Linked DNA regions of Homo sapiens. The protein of the gene in region 1 purifies or fractionates together with the protein of each later gene. This does not show direct contact. Each region holds a gene or a part of one and is shown in the gene's direction. Other genes may lie near its edges. The genes, in order: TLR6 and CD36.

Evidence for each region.
Region 2: the proteins of TLR6 (region 1) and CD36 purify together in Homo sapiens (co-immunoprecipitation; one study listed by IntAct). This does not show direct contact.

Annotation. Positions count from the first base shown.
Region 1 is NC_000004.12:38,853,957-38,858,462, reverse strand, and holds the start of TLR6 (toll-like receptor 6 precursor), read left to right. Parts: upstream 1-1,645; 5' UTR 1,646-1,702; intron 1,703-4,506. UniProt on the Homo sapiens protein: Participates in the innate immune response to Gram-positive bacteria and fungi. Specifically recognizes diacylated and, to a lesser extent, triacylated lipopeptides.
Region 2 is NC_000007.14:80,662,402-80,666,227, forward strand, and holds part of CD36 (platelet glycoprotein 4), read left to right. Parts: intron 1-571; exon of another isoform or gene 572-588; coding exon 589-768; intron 769-2,004; coding exon 2,005-2,096; intron 2,097-3,826.

The DNA of each region.
Region 1 (4,506 bases):
CAGGCATGAGACATCGTGCCCAGCCTGCACCTTGATTTTCTTCACTTCATAGTATATCCTGAAATCTTTACCCCTCAGCATACAAAAAAACTATATGATTTGCACCAAACTCCTTACTATTATGACTTCTCTTCTGTGTCAGTCACTATTCCAGCCACTTTAAATTCATTATCTTTCCTAAAAGTACTCCCATTTTGTGGATGAATAAATGGAGGTTAAGGGACTTGTCCCAAGCCTCACAGTAAGTGGCCAAGTGGAGGTTCGGCCCAGTACTGTCTGTTTCTTTGTTTGCTTAACTGTCATTGCCATCTTCGCTATTACTTGATTTTTGTGTTTTTGTCATCCCCTTACAGACGTTTCTGAGTTATGACAGCCTCGACAAGAATAGTCTCCTTGTTTCTGAACATTGGTGTTGTGATGCAATCTCCTAATGAGACATGTCAATGTGCCCAGATCTGCAGTGATAGTTGTCTGTTTTCTTAAGACTTTAGTCCACGGTTACTTGAAATTCCCTCAGAGCCACAGCCAGCCCTTTCCCTTGGCTTGTTTCACAAATCTGGTTTTCCAGGGTCACAGATACCTGCTGCTTTCTGGCTGTCTCCTTTTGCCAGTGGAGCAGAGATCCATCCACTCCTTACTGAGCCTCCCCAGGCCTGAGGAGACTTCCTGTTATGTTTGATGAGTAAGGATGAATCACAAGAAGCCAGCCTTTCTCTTCCTCCTGAAAGCAGAAGTGATTCTTACGGAGATGTCCAACTTTGTCATTAGCCAAATTGTAAGGTCTTAACTTGTTGTTGTTTTTTTTTTAATAAAGATGAGATTGTGCCAGACAGTGAGATAAATTATAGAATGATTGTTTCACTCATGCCTTCTGTCCTTTGCAGAACTCAGTTAAGCAAGAAGTCTGGGGAAAAGGGTTTACTGTCCACCAGAAGTCTCTGTTTAACCAGAGACTTCTGGTAATCAGCCTTTGTTGATGTCATTCTGAAATTCTTCTAAATGGTCTTTAGAAAATTGATTTTTAAATTAGTCTTGCAGGATTTCAGTGTTATTTATTATTCCTAAATTAAAATCTAAACCATTTAATAACACCAAATGTTGATCAGAATGTGGGTATGATTGCTCGTACATATGGCTAAATATGTAGTCATAAATATGTATCAACCAGTAAACTTTCCTTAGAAGTTGATTTTTAAAAAAAAACCCAAATTGTGGAACTATACTTATTTTATTTTAAACTATCTCATCCAGCTAAAATAATGCTCAAAATTGCTTGATAAGGGAAACTGCAATTATTCTTGAAATGTTAAATATGGTGATAATAGAAAACAGGCTGTTTAAAATAACTTTCCACTCAGGTGACAAATGTAATAACCAGGCTGCAAACTCTTACAGAGAAATATTACCTTAGAAAAATATTTTTCTTCACATTGAATTGTTTGTAAGTTGCTTCCTCACACGAATTAGAAAATTGGATTACTGGTTTTGTCTGTAGCCCAGAAAAAACTGCTAACTCACCTCCGGACCTTTGAAAGGTAAAAATATACGTAGGAGTAATTCCAGTGTGGGCCAACAGATGGCACCAATCTGTTTCTAAGGTACCGCTTTACTCAACTTTAAGAACTTGTGTTTGTCAAGCATTTTCAATTGTATTTCCGTTCATTTACAAGTTATTTTCTCTTCTTCTGAAAAAGAGATCTTGGTAAGTAGAAAGACTTCTGTGGCTTTTTCACATTATGGCACAGGTGCTTCAAGTAAGCAAGTTTGCTAACCATTCATTATATAGGAAATAGGTAATGTTTCCTTGAAATTTTTGCAAAATGATTTGAAGTGGTTTTTTTTGTAGATGTTGCAAATGTCCTTTGAATTTCACGAGCAGGATGAAGAGCAGCGTCTTTACAGCTGTCTTGAAAAGATAGAAAACAACTAGCGCTTGTGGTGATAATTAAGGAACAAAACTAATGTTATTTATTTCTTCTGATTTGGCCCAGCGAATTTTCTCTTTTCGTCTTTCTCTAGTTTATTGTTTTCAGTAACATTTAACAGTAATTTTTATATACCACTGATATGGCACCTATTTATTATATGTTTTTACAGCAGACGTGTGTTTGATCTCCCTTGTCGTTTGTCACTGTAACAGTTTGCTGGTCTGTGTCTGTCCCTAATTCATAAGCTTTTTGAAAGCAGGAATTATGTCAGTCCTATTCATATTTATATCCCTGGTGCCTAGTGCGTAGCATGGCACTGGCAGAAAAATAGACTCTGAATAAACATTTATTAAATGGAGGAAGTGGCCGGGACCAAGCCCCTTCACAAGCTTGAATCTGGCACAGTGTAGCAATTGCCTTCCTCCAGGTCCTTCCACCTTCAGTTTGACAAATGAAACAATGTTTTTCTTGCCTATTTGTTAACTTGATTATGTGATCTTTCCTCCACTTATTTCACTTAATTTTTTTTCTGCTCTCTTCTTCCTTGTAGTTTTAATTTTCATAGGTCTTGTCTACCCTTTTTTTCTGAAATGTAGCTTATTTCATCTATTTCCTCACCCTTTTTATTTGATGCATTTAAAAAATCAAGAGCATTTACCTGTTTATTTTTACTTTCTTTAAAAAACTGTGAACTCTCTAATCTTCCACTCTCATCTTCCCATTTTTCCCTCCTTTTTTCCCAATAAATAGAAAAGTTACTATCTTGTTCATTTAGTGTATTCCCTAGGAACTGCCTCAGGGTATGAACGCCTCTGGAGGAATATTGCGTTTTTGTGGCAGGATACCATAAGGACAGCTGACCAGCTTTTCCACCTGGTGACTGATTTTCAGTCCCATGAACCCAGACACCGTGGGTCTGGTTGCCGGGGACCTGTAGGGTAGGTCCTCATCTGTGAATGCCAGTTATCTACTATTATCTGAAAGTTCTCCATCTTTATATTTTAATATTCCAAATAAAACAAGCACGTTTCTTTAAATATAAAATATTTTCACACAGCTATAAAGACAACTCTTAAATTGCCTTACGATAACTTTTTTGGATTATAAAGGACATTCAAAATGAGACATTTTAGGGATATCTGAAAGTATAAGAAAGAAAATTAAATTCATCTATAATTCAGAGATTCAGAGAACCACTATTATTAGTATTTGGTATATTTCATCACATTGTTTGTCCTCTAGCTTTTACGTATATGTCAGGTTTTAATCATATTTTGCAAAATTAGAGTCTTACTACATATATAATTTTTTTTTTTTTTTTTTGAGACGGAGTCTTGCTCTGTCGCCCAGGCTGGAGTGCAGCGGCACGATCTCGGCTCACTGCAAGCTCCGCCTCCCGGGTTCACGCCATTCTCCTGCCTCAGCCTCCCGAGTAGCTGGGACTACAGGCGCCCGCCACCACGCCCGGCTAATTTTTTTGTATTTTTTTTTAGTAGAGACGGGGTTTCACCGTTAGCCAGGATGGTCTCGATCTCCTGACCTCGTGATCCACCCGCCTTGGCCTCCCAAAGTGCTGGGATGAGAGGCGTGAGCCACTGCGCCCGGCCATAATTTTCTATTACTGTATTCATTTAACATTATCATTTTTTCAAAGTACAGTATTTGAGGCTATTATTTAATTATACATAACTGATTTAATCATTTTCTACACTAGACATTCTGATTTTTTCAATATTTCATTATGTCATGAGTATCCTTATAGTCATATCTTCTGTGTGTTATTTTTGACTATTTCTTTAGAAAATTCCTTGTAGTGGAATTGCTAAAATAAAGGAAGGTATATTTTTAAGAAATTTATGTAAATTACCAAATTACCCTTTAGAAAGCTTGTACTAATTTTTCATTCCTGCCTAAGTAGTAAATGAGGGTTCTTATTTTAGTTTCCACCTACCAACCTGGATATTATATTTTTTAATTTTCCCTATTTGATAGGTGAAAAAAAAATCTTGCCTTTTAAAAAATCTTTTAAGAAACAAGAGTCCTCCTTTGACCCCCTTCCTCTTTTTATGCTTAAATATCTTATAGTAAAAATAACAGGCATTCTGGAAACCTATTTCTAAAAGCTTTATTCTCTATCTCTAAAAAAATTACATTTTCCTAAAATAGCCAAATAACATTATAAAAAATTACAATTTATTTCTTAATAGCATCTAATGGCTGGTCCATCATAGAATCTGCCCCTCCTTCTGTTACTGAATATGTTTTATAGCAAGTCTGTCTTAACTGAGATCTAATCCAAGATCATGAGTTTCATCTAGATGTTATGTGCTTTTTTGATTTAACGTGCTGTTTTATTTTTTGTGAGATTGCACATTATTCATATTATTGGCAATTGATTTTTGGCAAATTATTCAGTAAATAGTACAGTAAACTTAATTTTGAATGTTAAAAGTTTGAAAAATATAGATAAAAACTAAGAGGAAAATAAAGTTCCATTATAATCTTACTGTGCAAAGATAATTACTGTTCATATCTTGGTATGTATCTTATTAATTTTTCTACTTGCATAGGTACATAT
Region 2 (3,826 bases), on another chromosome or scaffold:
TGCTGTACTGAGACCTGTTGGAGCTTGTGGCCAGCATTTCATCCGCACCATTGGTCAGGTCACTGGCAGAGAGCCTCGTGCCGTTAGACGTGGAACCTGCCGTTGTGATGAACACGCCTGCAACAATTGTCTGCGCCATTTCTGTCACGTGTGGCTCCAGCGCCTTTGGGACCAGACTTATGGCTTTTTTTTTTTTTAAGTTCTGGGATACATGTGCTGAATGTGCAGGATTGTTACATAGGTATACATGTGCCATGGTGCTTTGCTGCACCTATCAAACCATCATCTAGGTTTTAAGCCCCGTATGCCTTAATGCATTAGATATTTGAGAAGACCACTTTAAGTGTATCGTTAAATAAATAGAGCTTAACTTGGAATGTCGTCTTCTTGTGGCTGGCACTGAGGCAAAGAAATGTAATCATCTAGGAATTAGACGAATTGCATTTTGAGTTTTGGCAGGATCTGGCAGTAATTTTAAAGATAAGCTTTAAAAAGTTTTGTATTAAGCTCAATATTAGCATTTAATCCATTTATTTGTTAAAATCTAATATTGTATTCTTGTCTTAAACAGTGACTTTGTTTTTGTAGGCTGCATCCCATATCTATCAAAATCAATTTGTTCAAATGATCCTCAATTCACTTATTAACAAGTCAAAATCTTCTATGTTCCAAGTCAGAACTTTGAGAGAACTGTTATGGGGCTATAGGGATCCATTTTTGAGTTTGGTTCCGTACCCTGTTACTACCACAGTTGGTCTGTTTTATCCTGTAAGTACCAAATATGAATGGCAATATTATTACATTTTAATTTAATTAATTCAATGGCATTGGCAAGGCATAATTTTATAATTTAGCTCATTAGTCTTATTGCTGATCTGGAGACATATATCCTAACTTTTTAAAAAGTCCACTTCTCATTATAGCTTCAGCTTTCCTAGTTGGGAAATTCATCTGAATTTAACAATTAAATTTAAACCTGAAGAATAGATTTAATAAGGTTTCTACTCATTTATAAATACACAATTTTTTTTAAATTAGCCGGTAAGCTAGTCTGTAAATCTTTGAGCACTGTTTTTGGCTTTTATTTCCCTATTCACATAATCAAGTTTAATACCATATTTTTATTTGTTTTAAATATACTCCTCATTCCTCCTTTTCTAGACCTCTTACAATTTTAATTTATATTTAAAAGTTAGCCTAATGTTCACATCTCAATACTGATAAGGTAATAGACTTCATTTTAATGGGATTTGTAAATAAGAATTTTTAGTAGTCCATAATGTCATGAAATGGCAGCTTGAAGATTAAGGAAAATGTGAACTTGATGGTGTACTTGATTACCGCTTAATGTTTTGAATTACAAATAGGATAAGCTAACTACTGAATTGGAAGTTGGACTATGACTTCATTTGGCACTATATGTGAATATTATGTTCTCTAGTTCATTGTTTTACTTTTAGATACTGTTAGGATTACAAGGTTATATATCAATTATAAATGAATGTAGAAAGCCATAATGAATCAAATTCATTCTGATTTTAACTCAATACTCATAGCTCTTTCTTTGGCTAATGCTTTAACTTTTGGATGTCTAATTTTTATCATTTTAGTAACCACTTATTATCATTTTAGTAACCACTTATTAATGACTGTAACATTTAGAATACCCCTAGAAATCATTGTTCTTATAGGTTTGTTCAATGTCCCTCACCTCAACATAGTAAGAATAGTGATCAAAATGCCCTCATTGGCTTAATTATGACAGAGTGCTAGAGTTCACATCATGTCAGCTTCTGATATGTATCTTCTTTGTCACAGCATCTAGCACTTATTTCTAGGCACCTTTCACAATTTTTAAGGCCAATAATTTAAAAAAATGTATTGCAGATGTATTTCAAGTCATTTGAGTAACCAGTGATTGAGAAATGTGAAAGTGAGTTATGTATTGTACAACTTTGAAAAAATGACTTGTAGAAGTAACATTTTCCCATACATATATTTCAGTACAACAATACTGCAGATGGAGTTTATAAAGTTTTCAATGGAAAAGATAACATAAGTAAAGTTGCCATAATCGACACATATAAAGGTAAAAGGTAAGTATTCTGGTAAAATGTGCATGTATGTTACTAGGGTACTCTTAAGCAGGAATAGTATTCATTTAACATCTCATAAGACATAGGCATCAACCTATAGAACAGACCTGGTTATAATTCAGCTCTGGAAACTCCTGTTCTGCTAGGTATTAACTCTTTAGTTGTGGTAACTGGTGAGTTCACACCAGTGCATAGCTGCTGACTATCAGCTCCACTTTAAGGTTTGGTTCACCTTTCTGCACAGGTTATGGTTGTGTTACATAAATCCCCAAAGGGACTATTTTTTCATCTCTGCTACTTATCCAGCATTACAGTATAATTATTCTTACAATTAGATAACCATAAATGAAAAGGTAAAAAAAAAAAAAACAACACATCAACTGATTGTGTAGTAGATGGAAACTTTTTTTTTACTTTTTAAATCGAGCATATCGAATTCCATATTCCAGTGGCATGACCTAAATGTGTCTATAAAGATGGAAGCTTAATGAATCCAGGCAACTGCTTTCATGACCTTCCCCCTGCAAATAGTCTTTAATAATTTTCCATATTGATAACTCAGCTTTTTTAACTTTATCAATGCAAAAATAGAATGAATATTTCAAGTGCAGTTCTACAATGTAAATACAAAATGTGAAAATGAAGACTTTGCCAACTTTAAAGTGGTAAAATAACAAATCAGCTTCCTAAGCCATTATTTCCTTTTTTTTTTTCTAGCTCCAGCCTATTCACCTAAAGAATTTATAATTTATCATATATGTAAACTAGGAAGAACCCTAATAAATATCAGAGGAACAAGCTTTCTTCTCCATAAAATTAACAATTGTGTGTTTGACTAGTTTTTTTCTGAAAAAGAATAAAGTGATCAAAACCAAAAGAGATGAAATGTTTTTATTAATATAAAGTAACCCCTACCTCAAACTGAGTCTATCTAATGATTGCTTTTAACAGCTAAATATTACTAGTGGAGTACTTTTTCTTCTAAAGAGTCCACAGTTACATATTTTTATAGAAAAAGTCAGTAGAGGGAAAAAAACACTTCTAAGTATTCACTTAAAAGGAAATCACAGCAATTTTTTATATTGAGAAATAACGAGCATTTCACTCTAATATTACAGAGAGATGTGGAGGGGAGTTGCAAAGCACTCCTAGTTAGAGTAAGAATTTCACATCATTTTAAGATTGTAAGGTTGATTTAACTCATGGCAAGACTGAACATGATTAACCACTTATTTTGTTTAAGCAATGGCTTGTCTTGACATGTCACTGTCAGGAGTGGAAAAAAAGTTTTTCCATCACCAAAAAGTGAGGATGCAGGGAAACTATTACTATTGTTTTTATCACTTCCAGATATATATAGCTTATTTAGACAGCAAAGTATAAGTTAGTAAACTCTTTCCTACTTTAACGCCAGTCCATGGGAGAATTAAAGGGAGGAAGGGGCAAGAATATAAATTAATCATCTACATGTTTTGAATGTTTGCTGATCCAAACATCTGCTTCTTTCCTCTTCCCTGCTTCTCTCTTCTGCCTGCCTTGTACTTAGCTTATATCAGTTACCCACTTAACACTTTCCTTCTATTCATTCTGAACACTTATACTACTGAGTAATTCATGTATCCCATTGGAAAAAAAAAAATTTCCCCTAAGTAGAGATCTAAGTTTCTGATAAATGTTTTTAATTTTTTTCTTATTCCAAGATGTTTCTAATTAACACCTGGCAGTTTTTA